Linked DNA regions of Homo sapiens: region 2 is linked to region 1. The links come from fine-mapping of genetic effects on gene expression. A gene starts in region 1. The other region holds a variant in brackets. All regions are shown on one strand. Distances are from middle to middle. Region 1 holds the start of FCHSD1 (FCH and double SH3 domains 1). Region 2 overlaps PCDHA1 (protocadherin alpha 1).

What was found. PIP is the estimated chance that this variant, and not a neighbour inherited with it, causes the effect.
Region 2: its variant is fine-mapped to the expression of FCHSD1 in whole blood (INTERVAL, PIP above 0.99).

Annotation. Positions count from the first base shown.
Region 1 is chr5:141,647,672-141,656,006 of GRCh38, forward strand. FCHSD1 (FCH and double SH3 domains 1) reads right to left here and starts at 3,747. Exons shown (of 20, transcript NM_033449.3): 1 at 3,677-3,747; 2 at 3,349-3,446; 3 at 2,688-2,733; 4 at 2,216-2,283; 5 at 1,724-1,865; 6 at 1,501-1,637; 7 at 1,286-1,349; 8 at 297-425. The coding sequence starts at 3,697. It overlaps ARAP3 (ArfGAP with RhoGAP domain, ankyrin repeat and PH domain 3), which reads right to left. Exons shown (of 33, transcript NM_022481.6): 30 at 8,198-8,261; 31 at 7,950-8,087; 32 at 7,691-7,729; 33 at 5,731-6,764. The coding sequence ends at 6,279. RefSeq lists an enhancer at 1,769-2,347.
Region 2 is chr5:140,860,429-140,868,763 of GRCh38, forward strand. All of the region lies in intron 1 of PCDHA1 (protocadherin alpha 1), which reads left to right. The region is part of intron 1 of PCDHA2 (protocadherin alpha 2); the gene reads left to right. The region is part of intron 1 of PCDHA3 (protocadherin alpha 3); the gene reads left to right. The region is part of intron 1 of PCDHA4 (protocadherin alpha 4); the gene reads left to right. It also overlaps PCDHA5, PCDHA6, PCDHA7, PCDHA8, PCDHA9 and PCDHA10, and 3 more genes. Among named protein-coding and RNA genes, the nearest start is that of PCDHA11, 4.4 kb to the right of the region's middle. The variant C/T (reference allele first, on the strand shown) is at 3,307.

The sequences.
Region 1 (8,335 bases):
TTAGAAGTTTAAAACACGTTCACATCCATTCTCTCCTTTGAGCCCCACTAGTGCTATAAGATAGGCAGAGAAAGGGTTATCCCTGATGAGGAATCTGGGGTTCGGAAGAGTTTAAGTGTACTGTACAATGCCATGCAGCCAGCTAGGAGCAGAACCAGAGTGCATGTATGTATCATCTACTCACTCTAAACAGACAAGATCCCCTGCACCACCCACTGTCATGGGGATCAAGAAGCAGGGGGAGGTCCTCCTTTCCCTCCCTGCTGAGGGATAGGGGTGTCTGGGTTAAAACTGGCCTTGAGCAGAGCTGGCAGTTCCTCCTGGTAGTAATGGTCGAGGTGGGCATTGGTAGCCACCAAGTTAAGCAGGTACTCATTGCGGGCTGCTTGCAGCTGCTGGGAGTACTGGGCTGACTGGGCGGACAGCTAGGAGGGTAAACTGATGTCAATAGGAAGCCCTAGACCCCCAGAGTCCTTCCAAGACCAATTGAGAAGCCAGATCCAGAATGGATTCTCACATTATTGAGTGCTTACTATGTGCCTGGCACTACACTAAAAATGTTGCATACACACAACTCCTGCTCAAAATCTTCTAGTGCCTTCTGCACGCATTTAAAATAAAATCCACTGTTCCTTACCATGGTCCACCACGTTCAATATGAGCTGGCCCCCGCAATCTCTCTGACCTCTTTTCAAGCGCTTGTTCCCTTGCTCACAGTACTCCAGCCATACTGGCCCTCTCTCAGTTCCTCGAGCCTACAAAGTTATTCCCACCTCAGACCCTTTGCACTCACCATTTCTTCTCTCTGCAATGTTCTTCCCCTAGATCTTTGCAAGGCCAGCTCCTTCTTGACAGTTAGGCCACCTATTCAGAGAGGCCTCCCTCTAAATTCTACCCCCTTGTTATTCTTTATCATAGTACCTTGTTTTATTTTCATCTTAATCTAAGTATTTATTTGCTGTCTGTCTCTCTTAACCAGACTGTGAGGGCAGGAACTCCATTGGTAGTGTTCTCCACTGTATCCATAATGTCTAGAACAGTGCCTATTATATACAGATCCTCAATAAATGCATATTAAAGGACTGAAAAAGAAGGGTATTCTCTCCATTTTATAGAAGAAAATAAGGCTCACAGAGATCAAGTAAATTAACCAAGGTTACCCACCCAGGAAGTAGGAGAGCCTGGATTCAACCCAGTCTTTCATACATATGCACCTATGTTCCAAACCACTAGACTACTCTGCCTCCCTCTTCCCTGCCCCCACTCATGCCCTCATCCCTCGAACCTTGGTGCTCAGTTTCTGGAGACTGGTCCGAGAGTGGAAGATCCCATGGTCACTTCGGTTTAGCCTGTGCAGATGAGAGAAAGGAGTCAGGCCCACCCCAAGTGGGAGAATATGAGATCAGAGTCAGGCCCAGCTTTGGTGACTTGGCTCCACCCCTAGACAGCCCCACCTCCCTGTTCCCCAACCTTGGGCTTCCTCACTCTCCATGACCCCACCTGGCCTGGACATCAGCCGCCTTCTCCTGTGCCAAGGCCCACACACGTTCCCGCTGCCCATACAGCTTCCGACTTCGGCTCAGCTCCCGGACAGACTGCAGCACCTCAGCCTGCGCCCTCTGGAGGTTCTCTGTTCCCTATTGGGATGCATACACAAAGTCCTTACCTAGACCACCTTTGGTCCCAAGCCAGCTCTTCCTTCACCCCAACCTCTGAGCCATACCTTCCTAAGCACCTGCTCCTTGGCGCTCCGCCCTGTACCCCCTGCTAGGTCACGGTATCGGTCAGACGCCTGGAGTCGGGTTTGGCCCCCAGCCACGGTGGCATCCAGCAGGCAGCGCCAGGCACCGAACACTGTCCTGCCCCTCCCCAGAGAAGGTCTGTGTTGAGGAGGAGAGCACTCCACAGCTTCATGAGACCACCCCCACCCCCTGCCCCCTGACCAACACCATGGGAGACAGAGTGCTTTCCCATCCTCCCTTGTCTGGGAGCCCATCAATCGATCAGCCCATTAGCTCAGCCACAAGCCTCACTCCTGCCCTCCACCCCACCCACAGTGTCCTTGCTGGGTCAGCTCCTCTGCTGCTGCTGTGTCAGCTCTACCTACAGCTCACGTGCCTTCCCCACTTGCTAGGCCTTCATCCCCACAGGTTCCTGGGGCTGAGCTCCCCATCACTTTTTGGCCTCTGTGGCCCTCCCCCTCCATAGGGCCCACCTGCTGTCCATCTCACCGCTCCGGTGCCCTTCCCTCTTCAGGAATGGGCCAGCCAGTTTCTGGAGTGCCTGGTGAAAAAGCCATCACAGAACCAAGTTCCCTTTCAAAGACCCACCCCAACTGGCAGAATATGACATCAGAGTATAATCATACCATTCTTTGGGTACATTATGTGCCACTTGCTTTGCTAAATGCCTTATAGTCATTAATTTGTTTAATCCTTACAACAACCCTACATGAAGGTAAGGTATTATTATTATTCCCATTTCACAGAGAAAGAAACTGAGGTCAAGAAAGGTTAAGTAACTTGTCCAAGGTCACATGGCTATAATTACACAGCAGGGATCTGACACCAGTCTGCTTGACTCTAGGCATCTGCTCTTGACCACAATAGGGATAGGTATGGACAGACATTACTGGTGATATAAGAGAGGCTGGAACAAGAGGTAAGGTCCAGAGAAAAGTCCCATACCTGCCCATACTCCCGTTCAATGGCTGCCCTCTGCTTGCTGTAGGATCTGCGGAGATTGCAGGTCGGGGGTGAGGTGGGGGATAAGGTTATGTTTGGTCCTGTTCTCCCATCCTCAGTCCTCTACTCTGGGCAGGAGGGAGCGGTTGGGGGGAGCCAGGTTCCTAGAGTGTAACTACACCCAGAGGGAATGGGACTGATGGGAGTCCTTGAGATCACCTCGGGCAGCTGCAACACAGGAAACCCTCACCTTACTGCCCCGGGCCCCAGCAGGATCCTCCCCACCCCAGAGGTTCATCTGTAGGCTTAGAGGTGAAGACTGATGGGGGCCTGGGTACGATGTCTGCCAGCCTTCCAACAGGTCTGGAAGAGGGAGAGGGATTCTGCCCTAAGGTTGATTGTGGGGTTGGGGGCAGTGGTGTGGAGTCAAGGGCTTTGAGGGAGGGTTCCTGTGTGTTTATGTGGGTGGGAGGGGGTTGGGAGGGGTTAGGTGGGGGAGCATTCCTATCCAGTATCTGGAGAGGCCAGGCCTAGGGTGAGGGCTGTGGATGGGTCGGCTGGGGAGCTCTTGGCCCCTGTTCCTCCACCCCAGCACATGTATATTGGGGAGAAGTGGCGCACAACGACGAAGGTGAGTGTAAATGAAGGGGGTTGGGGGAGCTACCTGATGTCCTCCAGCAGATCCGCCTCCCTCTGCTGCCAGGTCTGAAGGATGCTCAGCTGTTCCAGGAAGCGAAGCTTCACCTCCTGGGCCGGCTTCACCTGTGGGGGCAAAGAGAGGATGAAGACCCCAGCGCAAGGACCTAAAAAACACTCCGCGCAGGGAGCGGTGAGGGGGCGGGGCCGGGGGGGTGCTGAGCTCTTTCCTCTGTTACTTCTGGTTTGGGGTCTGACCCCTTCCGACTTCCCGTCTCCTACCACAAGTCGGATGCCCCCTTAGCTCCCTCCGTTCCCCCAGCCCGCCAGGAGTCCCCATTCAGGGCCAAGCTCACTTTTCGGGGCGGCGGCTGCATCTCCGCTCCAGCAAGGCGGTCAGCCACTGGACTCCGGAACTGGAGGAAGCCCCGCCCACTATGGAGCCCCGCCCCAGGCCAGGTCAGGCCCCGCCCTCTGCCCGCCCACGACTTGTCCGGCGACGTCGCAGGGCGCGGAAGCGAGAGGGGGCCACCGAGAAACTAAACCTGTTACTGCTGCGAATACGCCGGCAGGGTCCGGGTGGCGGGGCGGGCGGGGCGGACGCAGCGTCCGCTGGGCGGTGGGAAGAACCCCAGGCATCTGAGTCAAGACGCCTAAGTTCTATTTGTAGTGTAACCACTGATTCAGCCTGTAATTATTGATAATTATTCATTTGCATATGTAGATCCCCAGTCCCCGAGCTAATGATGAGGAATGGAGAGGAATTCAGTGTGTGACCAGGGAAACTGAGTCACTGGGCACCTGAGCAAAGATGCATCTGACGAAGAGAGGGCTGGTCCCAGACCTTTTCCTAATTCCCGCTTAACTGGAAAAGCCAGCGTGAGCGGGGTGAGAAAGATGCCTGGATCCAGGAAGGAACCAGGCCCAAAGGGAAAAAGACTTGGCCCCACTGAAAACTAAACGATACCAGTGAGTCGGCGAGAGCTGGGAGATGCGCAGGAAGCCCCTGCCACCTTTAGGATCTTCCAGCCCTAGCACTGCTTCCTGAGGAGCCTCTCCCCAATTCCTCATCCTCCTCACCTAAGCTTCTTTGGCTCAGGCACCTGTCCCAGTACCCCTGACATGTCTCAAAACTCCAGATTCACATTCCAACTCCCCACTGACACCTCTGCTAGTATATCTAATAGGAACCTCAACTTTTAAAGCTTTTAAACCTCCTTCAACCTGATCCTCCCCCCGTAACGTTTTAAATGGCACCGCATTTCCTCCAGTCAGTTAAGTCAGAAACCCAGAGTCAATGTGCCTTCTCCTACCCCTACATTCTATCCATCAGTAAGTCCTACAGGTTCTATTTCAAACAACAATAAACAAACAAAAACCTCTTGATCCACTTCCCTCAATTTCCAAGACCACCATCCTAGTCCAAGCCCCCATTATTAGACTTCTGGTCTAATATCTGATCTCCTTGCTTCCACACTGCCCTCACCCCAACCCACTGTTCACACAGCACTCAGAGTGATCAACCTTTTTTTTCTTTTTTAAAGGGAAATAAGATCTCATAATTTACTTGCTTAAAATGCACTTGCTTCAGAATAAAATCCAAATAGAATCCATGGCCTTCAAGGCTACGCATGGAAGACCCTGCTGGTCTTTCTTACTTCAGCCTGTACTCTCCTCCCACTGTCTGCTCACTGTGCTCCAGCCTCTTTGCTGTTCCCTCAGTAGACCAAGTCCCTTCCAATGCAGAGTTCTTCATGCCTGCTTTCTTTCTCCAGAATCTCCTCCTTCCAGCGTTCCATCTGTCGCCTCCAACAGCTTCTTTCCCTTACTTTGCAACTCTTCACAGATGCCTTCCCCATCCACCCATCCAAAGACCATCTCCACAATCACTCTTTTTTTTTTGAGATGGAGTCTTGCTCTGTTGCCAGGCTGGAGTGCAATGGTGCAATCTCGGCTCACTGCAACCTCCACCTACCAGGTTCAAGTGATTCTTCTGCTTCAGCCTCCCGAGTAGCTGGGATTACAAGCACGTGCCACCACAACCAGCTAATTTTGTATTTTTAGTAGAGACAGGGTTTCACCATCTTTGCCAGGATGGTCTCAAACTCCTGACCTCAGGTAATCCATCCCCCTCAGCCTCCCAAAGTGCTGGGATTACAGGTGTGAGCCACTGCGCCTGGCCTCCACAATCACTCTTCAAGCTCATCACTTTGGTTCAGTTTCTTCACAGCACTAAACTCACTTGTTCAAGTACTGGTTTATGTGTTTATTTGCTATTTTCTGTTCCCCTCCACAACGGAGGATTCATAAGAGCAGGGGCCCTGTTTGTTTTGTTCATGCTATATCCCCAGACCTGGCACCAATTAGGTGCACAATACATATTTGTTGAATGAATGAATGAGAATGGTAGTCTTTTGGTTCCCAGGTTTATTGACAATTACTCATCTATTTTTGACTCCCCGAGTCCCAGCTCCCAAACTCGCTCTCCCTACTCCAGGCTTCACGGTAGTCCCAGAATGTAGGAAGTGGGACAGGATAGACTTTAACATCACCCAGGCCTCTGGTTTCCAAAGCATTTTTTTTCTTTAATGCAGTAAAACCATTCCTTTAAAACCCAAAATCTCTCATGGAACCCCTACGTATCAAATATATAAAGCAGGAGCTGCCCTTGTTCAGGGATAATATGTGGGGCTTATGGCTCTAAGAAACACAGTTTGACATTCACTGCTCTCCTTACTTCAGTTACCTCATGGTATAGATAAATGGGCTGGGCCCAGAGAGGGGCCATGACCTGTCCTGGGACACGCAGCCACTGAAGCCTTTAGTCCAGTGCTCCTTCCACAGCACCACACTGGATTCTGGAGTCTTTCCAGCCAGGGCAGAGGAAGCTGCAACAGTGCCACGATAAGAGTTTCTGGGTCTTCTGGTACCTACCCTCTCAGACTGCTGGTCCTAGGGTCATGTGAGGGGCTGGCTGGAGGGTGGACTGGAAGTGCATGGGGGTTGGGTGGGGAAGCCAGGTGTCTGTGTTGGAAGGCCAGTGGGGCTGGGGGATTGGGGGCTGGATGGCTGGGAAGGACTTCCCAGGCCTGCAGTGGTCTCTCCTTTCCTCAGGATGAGGCTGCTGAGCTCCTGGAGCAGCTGTTCCTCTAGGGACCCCCGTGCCTGGGGACTGCTCTTTGAAGGGGGGCCTGGAGGGGGCTCAGGTGGCCTCTCCTCCTGGCCAAGGGTGCTTGACTTGGAGAGAAAGGGTTGATCCAATGACTTCTGGCTGGTGAGGGGGTTCTCTGGCTTCACTGTCCACTCCCGTGTGGTGGAGAAGGAGGTAGAAGTGTCCTGGATCAACTCAGGGAAGGCCCCTACTTCCTCATACACTGGCTCCTCGTACACAGGCTCCTCCAGCTCCTCTTGCTCCTCCACAGACCCCTGGGATGACTTCATTGGCTGGATGGGAATGGAATGGCAGGAGTGGGCACATAGTTAAAGTTACCAGATTATGAATCACTAACATTTACTGAGCTCTTCCTCTGGGCCAGATGCTGTAAAATACTTGGCATGTATGATTCTGGAACAACCCTGTGCAGTGGGTTACACTGAGTCAACTGAATGCAAAGGGGTTAAGTAAGTTGCCCAGCATCACATAATGAGTGAATGGTAGAGCTGGGGTTTGAACCCAGGTCTGTCTAACTCCAAAATGCATTCACTTCATCACTTTCCTTCTATTTCACAGATTCTGTGACAACTTTTTCCTTTTTTTTTTTTTTTGAGACAGAGTTTTACTCTTGTTGCCTAGGCTGGAGTGCAGTGGTGCGATCTTGGCTCACTGCAACCTCCGCCTCCCAGGTTCAAGTGATTCTCCTGCCTCAGCCTCCCAAGTAGCTGGGATCACAGGCATGCACCACCACACCTAGCTAATTTTGTATTTTTAGTAGAGACGGGATTTCACCATGTCGATTAGACTGGTCTTGAACTCCTGACCTCAGGGGATCCACCCACCTCAGCCTCCCAAAGTGCTGGGATTACAGGCATGAGCCACTGTGCCCGACCTTTCTCCTTTTATTACTGCATCTTACATCCCTCATTTTCCTCATTCTTTCTGGCCTCCTCTCTCTCTCTGTCCTGTCCCTCTCCCTCTCCCTTTTCCTCGCTCTCCCTCTCTCTCTCTCACACACACACACACCCTGATGGCCTACACACACACACACACACACACACACACACACCCTGATGGCCTACACACACACACACACACACACACACACACACACCCCCTGATGGCCTACATGAGGAAAACAGCACACCCGGGGCTCAGGCAGCACAGAGGAATACAGGGTTGACAGGCACACCGCTGGAGCAGGCACAATACTCACAAAGAACATGGACAGGGTCCTCCGGTTGTGTAGTCGCCGCTGGACACAGGTGGGGTGGGGACAAGGGGAAGGAAAGACATAAAGACACAGTGAGGACTAGCAACAGGAGACAGGGGTGGGGAATGGGGGTGAAGAAGGCAGAAGGGAGGGGGACAGTGAGCATAGGGTGGCACCAGGCTAGCAGGCACACCACTGCCTACTGCAATGTGACAAGGGCTACACGACAGGAATCGGGTTGGGGCAGGGTGGGGTGCCTTACCAGGGTCTGATTGGCAGAGAGGAGGGTGGCTCCACTGTCATCCCCACGGATAGGCAGCAAAGGCATAGTGCCAAACTTCTGACGGGCAAGGTCAGAGGAGGAATGGCGTCGTAAGACCACTGGCTGCTGGTCATCGTGCTGGTGGGAGCGTGAGGGGTTGGCATCAGTGGGCATGAAAGGCACTGAGGAGGACAGCTGGGCCCCAGGGGGACCACAGACCCAGCCCTCAGCCTTTTCTTTCCCCTCACCTGGGCTTTAAGGATGCTGGTGGTCCAATCCCACATTTCATCCTCGTCAGTGCAGGACAAGTAGCTGGGGTGATCAGAATGGAATCAGAGGGAGAGAGAGGGTCACAGCTATAGGAATGGAGCATACAAAGAGGGAAG
Region 2 (8,335 bases), 790 kb before region 1:
ATGATCTTTTTCATATTAATTCACGTGATAATACAGTTGGTGCAGTAGTACTTTATTTAGGATGTCTACATACAAGATAAAACTCTTCATGGAATTCTGATTTGTAAGACAAACCCACCTTTGAAGAGGTACTGATCATACACAAGAAGGTATAGGAAAGGAGTTGGAAGCTCACAAAGAGAAACATAAACATATGCAGGAATCAGGAACGAAGAAGATAAGTGAAATAATATGAAATCAAATGCACTTATGTTTTGAGCGACAGGATATTGTTGTTCTCCATGAAAAGTTTTTTTGGTTTTTTTGTTTTTTATTTTTTATTTTTTTGAGACGGAGTCTCGCTCTGTTGCCCAGGCTGGAGTGCAGTGGCACGATCTCGGCTCACTGCAAGCTCCGCCTCCCAGGTTCACGCTATTCTCCTGCCTCAGCCTCCGGAGTAGCTGGGACTACAGGTGCCCGCCAACACGCCAGGCTAATTTTTTGTATTTTTAGTAGAGACGAGGTTTCACCGTGTTAGCCAGGATGGTCTAGATCTCCTGACCTCGTGATCCACCGGCCTCGGCTTCCCAAAGTGCTGGCCGAGTGCCACCGCACCCGGCCGAAAGGTATTTTTTTTAACAGAAGAAAATCAGATTATTCCTAGATCAGAAAGAAGCTCCATTGTTCCTGTACTTTAAAAACTACAAACACCCATTAAGACCACTTGGAACCTCAGGAACAAGGACCAAAAGGTCTCAGAGGAACTAAGTCTTTCTAGTCATGAAATATTGTTTTACTAACCAAAAGAGAGGCATAATTTTAGCTGCTAGACAAAGTGGCCAGGAATCCCGGAGCCTACAGCACTGGCTTCTGCTCCTTGAATTTTGTGAAGCGGGAAAGGACCAGTTCCACTACACCATCCTGGAAGAGGCCAAGGACGGCACATAGCGTCTTCGCGGTCCCTATTGCGCAGGACCTGGGTCTGGAGCTTGTGGAGCTGATACCGCGCCTGTTTCAGTTGGATTCCAAAAGCCGCAGAAACCTTCTGGAGGTAAATCTGCAGAATGGCATTTTTGTGAGTTCTCTGATAGACCTCGAGGAGCTGTGTGGGAGGATCTCGGAGTGCAGCATCCACCTGGAAGTGATCGTGGACAAGCTGCTACAGGTTTTCCATGTGGAGGTGAAAGTGAAGAACAATAAAGACAACCTGCCAGTGTTCTCAGCAACACAAAAGAATCTGTTTCTGAAACGAGAGCTCTTGATTATCGTGTTTCACTAGAGGGTGTCTGTGATGCCGACGTCGGGGCCAATGCTCTGATGACTTACATACTGTGCCGCAATGATTATTTTTCCCTGGAAATACCAAGAGCAGGTAAAACCACTTGAAGGTGTATTTTAAAAATTCTTTCAGATAGGTAAGTCACTTCAGAGCTACTCTTGGTGCTCAAAGCAACTGATGGGGGCGAAGCTGAGCTGACAGGCACCAAAGCATTATATATCACAGCGCTGGATGTAAATGATGATGCCCAGTGTTTGACAAAGGAGTCTATCATGTGAAATTACTGGAAAATGCAAGAGAAGGTACACTGGTTATTAGACTTAACCCCTTGGATTTTGACGAGGGTTCAAACCGTCACATTGTTTCTTTGCAACTGATGTCTCCCCTAACATAGAAGCCCTTTTTCGCATAGATTCAGACAGTGGATAAATAAATGTAAAGATAGGTTTTGAGGAAACTAAATAATGAAAGATTCAAATACAGGCAGTTGACACAGGCAATTCCCCAATGTTTGATCACTGCACAGACTTGATAGAAGTCTTGGACATCAATGATAGTGTTCCAGAGTTAGCAGTAAGTCACTATCATTCCCTGTACAGGAGGACGCTCCACTGGGTACCGTCATAGCCCTAATCAGTGTAATTGACCCTAACTTCAGTGCCAAGGGACAGACGACCCGCACCCTGACTCCTCACGTCTCTTCAAGCTGGTGTCTACCTTCAAAAGGCGCTGCCCAGAAACTATTCGTTGGTACTCCACAGCGCCCTGGACCAAGAGAGCAAATCTATCCATTGTTGGTAATCGCTCGGAATGGGGACTCGCTTTCATTGTTGGCCACAGCCATCGGGTCCGTGGAAGTGGCCGAACAGTGAACCACAATGCCCTGGCGTTCCAGCAGCCCGAGTACATGGTGTTCGTGAAAGGTAACAACCCGCGGGGCTGCCACGACTTCACAGTGTCCGCGCGGGACCGGGACGCGCAGGAGAACGTGCTGGTGTCCTACTCGTTGATGGAACAGCGGGTGGGCGAGTGCGCGCTGTCTAGCTATGTGTGGGTGCACGCGGAGAGCGGCAAGAGGTACGCGTTGCAGCCACTGGACTACGAGGAGCTGGAGCTGCTGCAGTTCTAGGTGAGAGCGCGCGACGCGGGCATGCCGCCTCTGAGCAGCAATGTGACGCTGCCAGGTATTAGTGCTGGAACGACAACTTTGTCTGCGCTGCTGGCGCCTTGGGTGGGCTGGCGGCGCTGTGAGTGAGCTGGTGCGGTATTCAGTGGATGCAGGCCACTTGGTGGCGAAGGTGCGCACGGTGGACTCCAGCTATGACGCCTGGTTGTCGCAACAGCTGCATCTGTCAGCTGGCAGCACCCGTTCCACGTGGGGCTCTGCACGGGCGAGATCAGCACGACGAGTACCCTGGACGAGGCGAAAGCTACGCGCCACCGCCTGCTGGTGCTGGTGAAGGACCACTGCGAGCTGGCGCTGACTGCCACCGTCACCGTGGTGGCGTCGCTGGCGGAGAGCAGCCAAGCGAGGAAGGTCCCATCGCGGGCTTTGGCGGGCGTCGAGGTCCGGGAGGCAGCGCTGGTGGATGTCAACGTGTACCTGATCATCGCCATCTGCGTGGTGTCCAGCCTGTTAGTGCTCACGTTGCTGCTGTACACGACGCTGCGGTGCTTGGCGCAGCTCACCGAGAGCTCGTGCATGCCGGGCAAGCCCACGCTGGTGTACCGCAGCGTAGTGGGATCTGGTCTTACTCGCAGCAAAGGAGATTTTACTCTGGAGAGTCGCCTCCCAAGGTCAACATTACGGCTTTTAGTCCTAGTGTTCTCCCATGGTTCAGATTTTGGAGATGGACTTCAATAGGAAATTTTTGAGAATATAAGTACTGTAATCCTGGAAAGTATTTCATTCCTATTAATGTCCCTCATAGTGACATTGATAATGTTCACCAAGTTATTAATTTGATTGCTTTATTTATTTTGCTTTTGCTTTTTCTTTTGAGATGCTTTATTTAAAGTACACTGGGGCCGGGTGCGGTAGCTCATGC[C/T]TATTTGTAATCCCGGCACTTTGGGAAGCCGAGGCGGGCGGATCACTCGAGGCCAGGAGTTTGAGACCAGCCTGGCCAACATGGTGAAACTCCATCTCTACTAAAGATATAAAAAAATTAGCTGGGTGTGGTGGTGCGCACCTGTAATCCCAGCTACTCAGGAGGCTGAGGCACAAGAATTGCTTGAACCTAGGAGGCAGAGGTTGCGGTGAGCCTAGATTAGGCCACTGCACTACAGCCTGGGAGACAGGGTGAAACTCTGTCTTAAAAAAAAAAGTACATTGGAAGTCTAGCCATCTTAATCACTTTTTACTACAGTCACCATGAACATTCTTTAGGAATATTCTTCAGTTGATAAGTATAATGATAATAGTAATAATGAATTAGACTGAGTGGCTGTTTCCTGTAAATGAGAAAGTTAAATCTTACCGGAAGGATCATGATGAATAATGATCCTTATGAGAAGGTCAAATCTTCTCAATTTTGAAGCAAGTTCTTTATTCCTATTCATTTTCTTATTCTGATTTGTGTCCTCCATTCCTTATTGTTTTTATGTATTCAAAAATACCATGACAATATTTAATATCATAATTATTTGAGTTTAAAACATGTTTAAATGTTTATCTTTCTATAATCGATAAGTTTATCTCTCACAAATGGTGATGAGCAGGGTTGAGGCAGCTTCGTCCACAAACAATTTTGTTTCTTCATGATCAATATCCATCTTTTTTGAGATGTTGATTGCAGTGGGTGGAATTTTAGCCTTGCCTTTAAAGGTGATTTTACTTCTTAATTTTTGTCTTCAATCTTCTTATAATTTCATTTTAGGTCATTGTCTTCACAATCTTCAACTACTTCAGATAGCCAACAACTTTGTTCTTTTTTAAAAAGAAAACAAAACAAAACAATGTCAGCTCTACTTAATTACCTGTTGACTTAATTGCTGCTGTCCTCCAGTTTAAGTTGTTGAGCTCTTCTACTATTTTGGGAAGATTTCTTTGAGCACCGATTATACTCATTTTTCTTTCATTTTTGGTACCTGGCTGTATGAAAATATTTTAGGGTAGGAAAATTCACACTTATTTGGGCTTTAAGTATAAGAGAGTCTTCCCATACATGATGAAGGGTGATACCATTGTCTGTGTTCATTAAGCTGCATGGTCTTCAGAATGGCATTGCTGAGCTTGGCAGGGTGTCTCAGGCCTGTAATCCCAGCATTTTGGGAAGCCGAGGGAGGAGGATCGCTTGAGACCAGGAGTTTGAGACCAGCCTCGGCAACATAGTGAGACCCCCATCTCTACCAAAAAATGTCATTGTTTTTAATAACTTAAGTATAAGAACCATGGGATATTAATAAAGGCACTTCCACTTGACAATTGTGGTGTTAATTATACCTTAGAATTTAACATTGTATACTTTTGATATATTTGATGCAAAATATTTTTTGCCTTCACACCATATTAATGTGAATTGCTTTCTTTAAAGGGATCCCAGAGAACACGTATTTATAGCTGTAAGGATGTGTATCAAATTATATGTAAAATTACTTTGCTCTTTTTGGCTCTAATTACAAATGAGATGGCCTTTAATTCTGTGTAAAGAAATAGTATATTTACATATTGCAGGATAACCATGTTATAGGTAGGGTAAAGTTAATATAAATGCTGAAAAGGAATTAGTAGTGTCTACCTAGAAAAATAACTTCTGAGAAGATGATTTCTATGAAGATAAACATTAAGGAAATCTTCAGAAAAGGGAAAACCCTGTCCTACTTTATGGTGCTGGAATTCTCTTCATCCATAGCTATAGGACAAGAGCCAATATTGATCAGTAACTCATGATAATAAATCACCATTGTTTGAGCAGTTTATTAATATATTTGTTAGACATCATGAAGGGACTTAAATACATTATTTCATTTAATACTTATAACAATTTCTAAAGTACATATGACTGTTCCAATTTGAAAGATAAAATAAGAGAAGCTGAGATGTGTATCTATTTTATCCAGTGCCAGTACATGGTGGAGATATTATTCAAATGTGTATCTTTCAGGCTTCAGACTCATTCTTTTATCCACTATAATGTAGAGCTTTCTTTAGTAAGTCATTTCTCTGCTCAAACATGGTCTCGGCTAGGAAAATCAAGCACAAATTGTGTACAGGCAAATCTTTCTTTCTGTTGTGCTTAGAAGAAACTTCATGATTGTCTTCATCATTAATTTTGTACAATGTGTGATTGAGATGGCACTAAGTTTTTTTATGTTAAGTGATTTTTTTCTTGTAAGAGTTCGTGATCATCATTATCATTTGTTTTAATCAATGCCACACTGAGATAGGTATTTTGGTTATGTAATTGTTAAGTAATTAAGAGTTGCCTTATAAGAACTACGTATCTGTTGTTTGGAAGTGATATAAGTAAGAATCGTTTAACATGTAAGAAAAGTCAGAAAACTGTGGTTTCCAATATCCTTGTGGAACACCTAAACTAAATACTATATACCAAAAATGACACCCTTCTTTCTTTACTGTGAATAAAGACAGTGTTTGGGACAAGTATAGATGTTGATATTATTATTTCAGGGACCCTGAACTTGGCCAAAGGATTCAAGAAATGTTTACAATATTGCATACTTCAATAACAATTTTAAAGACATAGATTCCCATGAAAATCTTCAAATGTGTGTAGGTCTTTCAGTCTTCTTCAGTCTTATTGTTGGCTGGGAAGCTCATAACAACTGACAAATGATTTGTGACCAAATAACTGTTTTTACTTGACTAAGCCATGATAGAGCAGAATTAGCATCACGGAATAAATCCTATAATTTTGTTAATACAGTGGTTGGATAATGTAATTCTAATCTGTTGGTTTTGGAGAACCTCCTGGGGTTCTGACAACGGTGTCAAAATTTATTTATGTGTTTTCAAGAAATAATAGCACTAGGTCTGTTAGAATATCAGTGGATGACGTGCACTAGTAAGACATTAAACTATGCACTCTAATACTTATATGACTAACAGGACATACAGGCAGATTGTATGTCCTGACTGATATAGTAAAAGTCAGGCACAAAGTTCCTTAATCTTCAATTGATTTTACAAAATCAGTTAACAATAACTGTATTGAAATGACTTCTTGGTATTAGCCTATACCCAGATATTAGGCTGATCCTCAAAGATGAGTTCAAAGGGCGCATAATCTCTTCACTAGGGGCTGGTTGAGATGGTGACATCTGAAATATCACAGCCAAAATGCAAAAGATGGGTCATTGATTCATACACTATATCAAACTCTTTTATGACTTGGCGTTTGTTCAGTACTACTTTATATATTCACAAAATACTGTATTGTTGGAAATTAACACCTAAATTAACATATTGTTTTAATTCAAATATGTGATATTATCATTTTTCCAGAGTAAACCTTCTAAGGTTCATTTCCCTACCTCGCAAGACTCCACATTCCATGTAACATCTTCATCCCCAATTCCCATAATAAGGTGATTGAGGATCTGTTGTTTCCTTTTGTTCAAAATAAACCTGATGTGCTTCAAATATCATGTTGAATATACTGTCATCTGGTCTAATGTTATGTTTTGATTAGAGGCTACTATGATTGATTATTTTACAGATGCGTAATGGAATTAACGGTTATAAAAGTTGATATGTCTCCTTTAATTTTTTAATACAGAATTTTGCATTTACCTGAATTAGAGTTCTAGTGTTATGACAACATTGGGAAAAGAGTAAATATGAAAAAAGTAGAACAAAATCTCAAATTAATAGTTGAATATATATATAAAATATTAGCATACACATATGATAACTTTTTCATATGCCCTTGCAGTATTTTTAGATTGGAGATAAACCATCAAAACTATAGAACAAAATATTTAAGCTAGAGTGATATTTATTCTAAATCACTTTCTACTCTAAAATTTTGTTGCATCTTCTTTTTTTCCTCCTAAATCCTAAGGGTATATGAAAAGACAAAGAAAATTCAAGCAAGTTACAACTTCAGGCAAAGAAAACTCTCATAAGCAATTCCTGTATTTTACTTAGCATTTTCTATGAAATTCCATTTCCACAAGCACTAAGGTAATTTACCATTTAGTTGAATTGTTTGATTAATTTTCTATGTTTTAAGCACAATATCAGGTACTTACAGAAGGTATAATTAAAAATCACTTCCCTTGTTTTCCATGAACTTCTGCTCCCAAACCCAAAATTCTTTCAACAAGAAACAAACTATTTTCATGAATATAACTGAATTAGATTAAGGAAACCAATGTTGGTGACTTGGAAATACCAATATGGCACAAAGATGTTCAGGGTGATTTTATTTATTTTATAAAATGATAATAAAATTTATTTTATAGTTGAAAAGCCTATTTCTGTCATATCATTGATTCTGTTACATAAAGTGCTAAATTTTGATATCTCATATTATGCTACTATGGCTTACATTAGAAATAATATATGTCAAATAAAAACTCATCTAGATCAATAGACTTTTCCTTTGTGGATTCTTTTTTAAAACTACCAAGTTTGAGAATATGAATATATTTGTTTTTCATATTGTTCTGCAATGAATATAAAGTCACTTATAATCAGAAAGCAATTAAATGTAAATAACAGTAAAGAATGAGAACTATAGAAAATAGATATGAAAATGCAAGCCCACAGAGATGAGAATAGATCATGTGGAACATAAACACTAAAGAGCTGCTTTTATAAAACTTCAATTTTTTCTTTGAGTTCCCTAGCAGCCAAAGTAACAAGGGAGACTGAAAGTAAAACAATTCAAATTTGATAGTATTTTTATATGAGGAACAACACTTTCAGGAAATGTTTAACCCTAGTTTTTCATGAGGCCACCTTAACAACTGAATTCTCTTTCTCTCTCACTCTGTGTATAAGTATTTTAGATAAGTAAAAGAACAATGTTATAATGTTAAGTCAAACATAGACACAATAATTTAAATTTGATGTTAATCGAGAAATACAATGCCATTTCCATATATATTTAG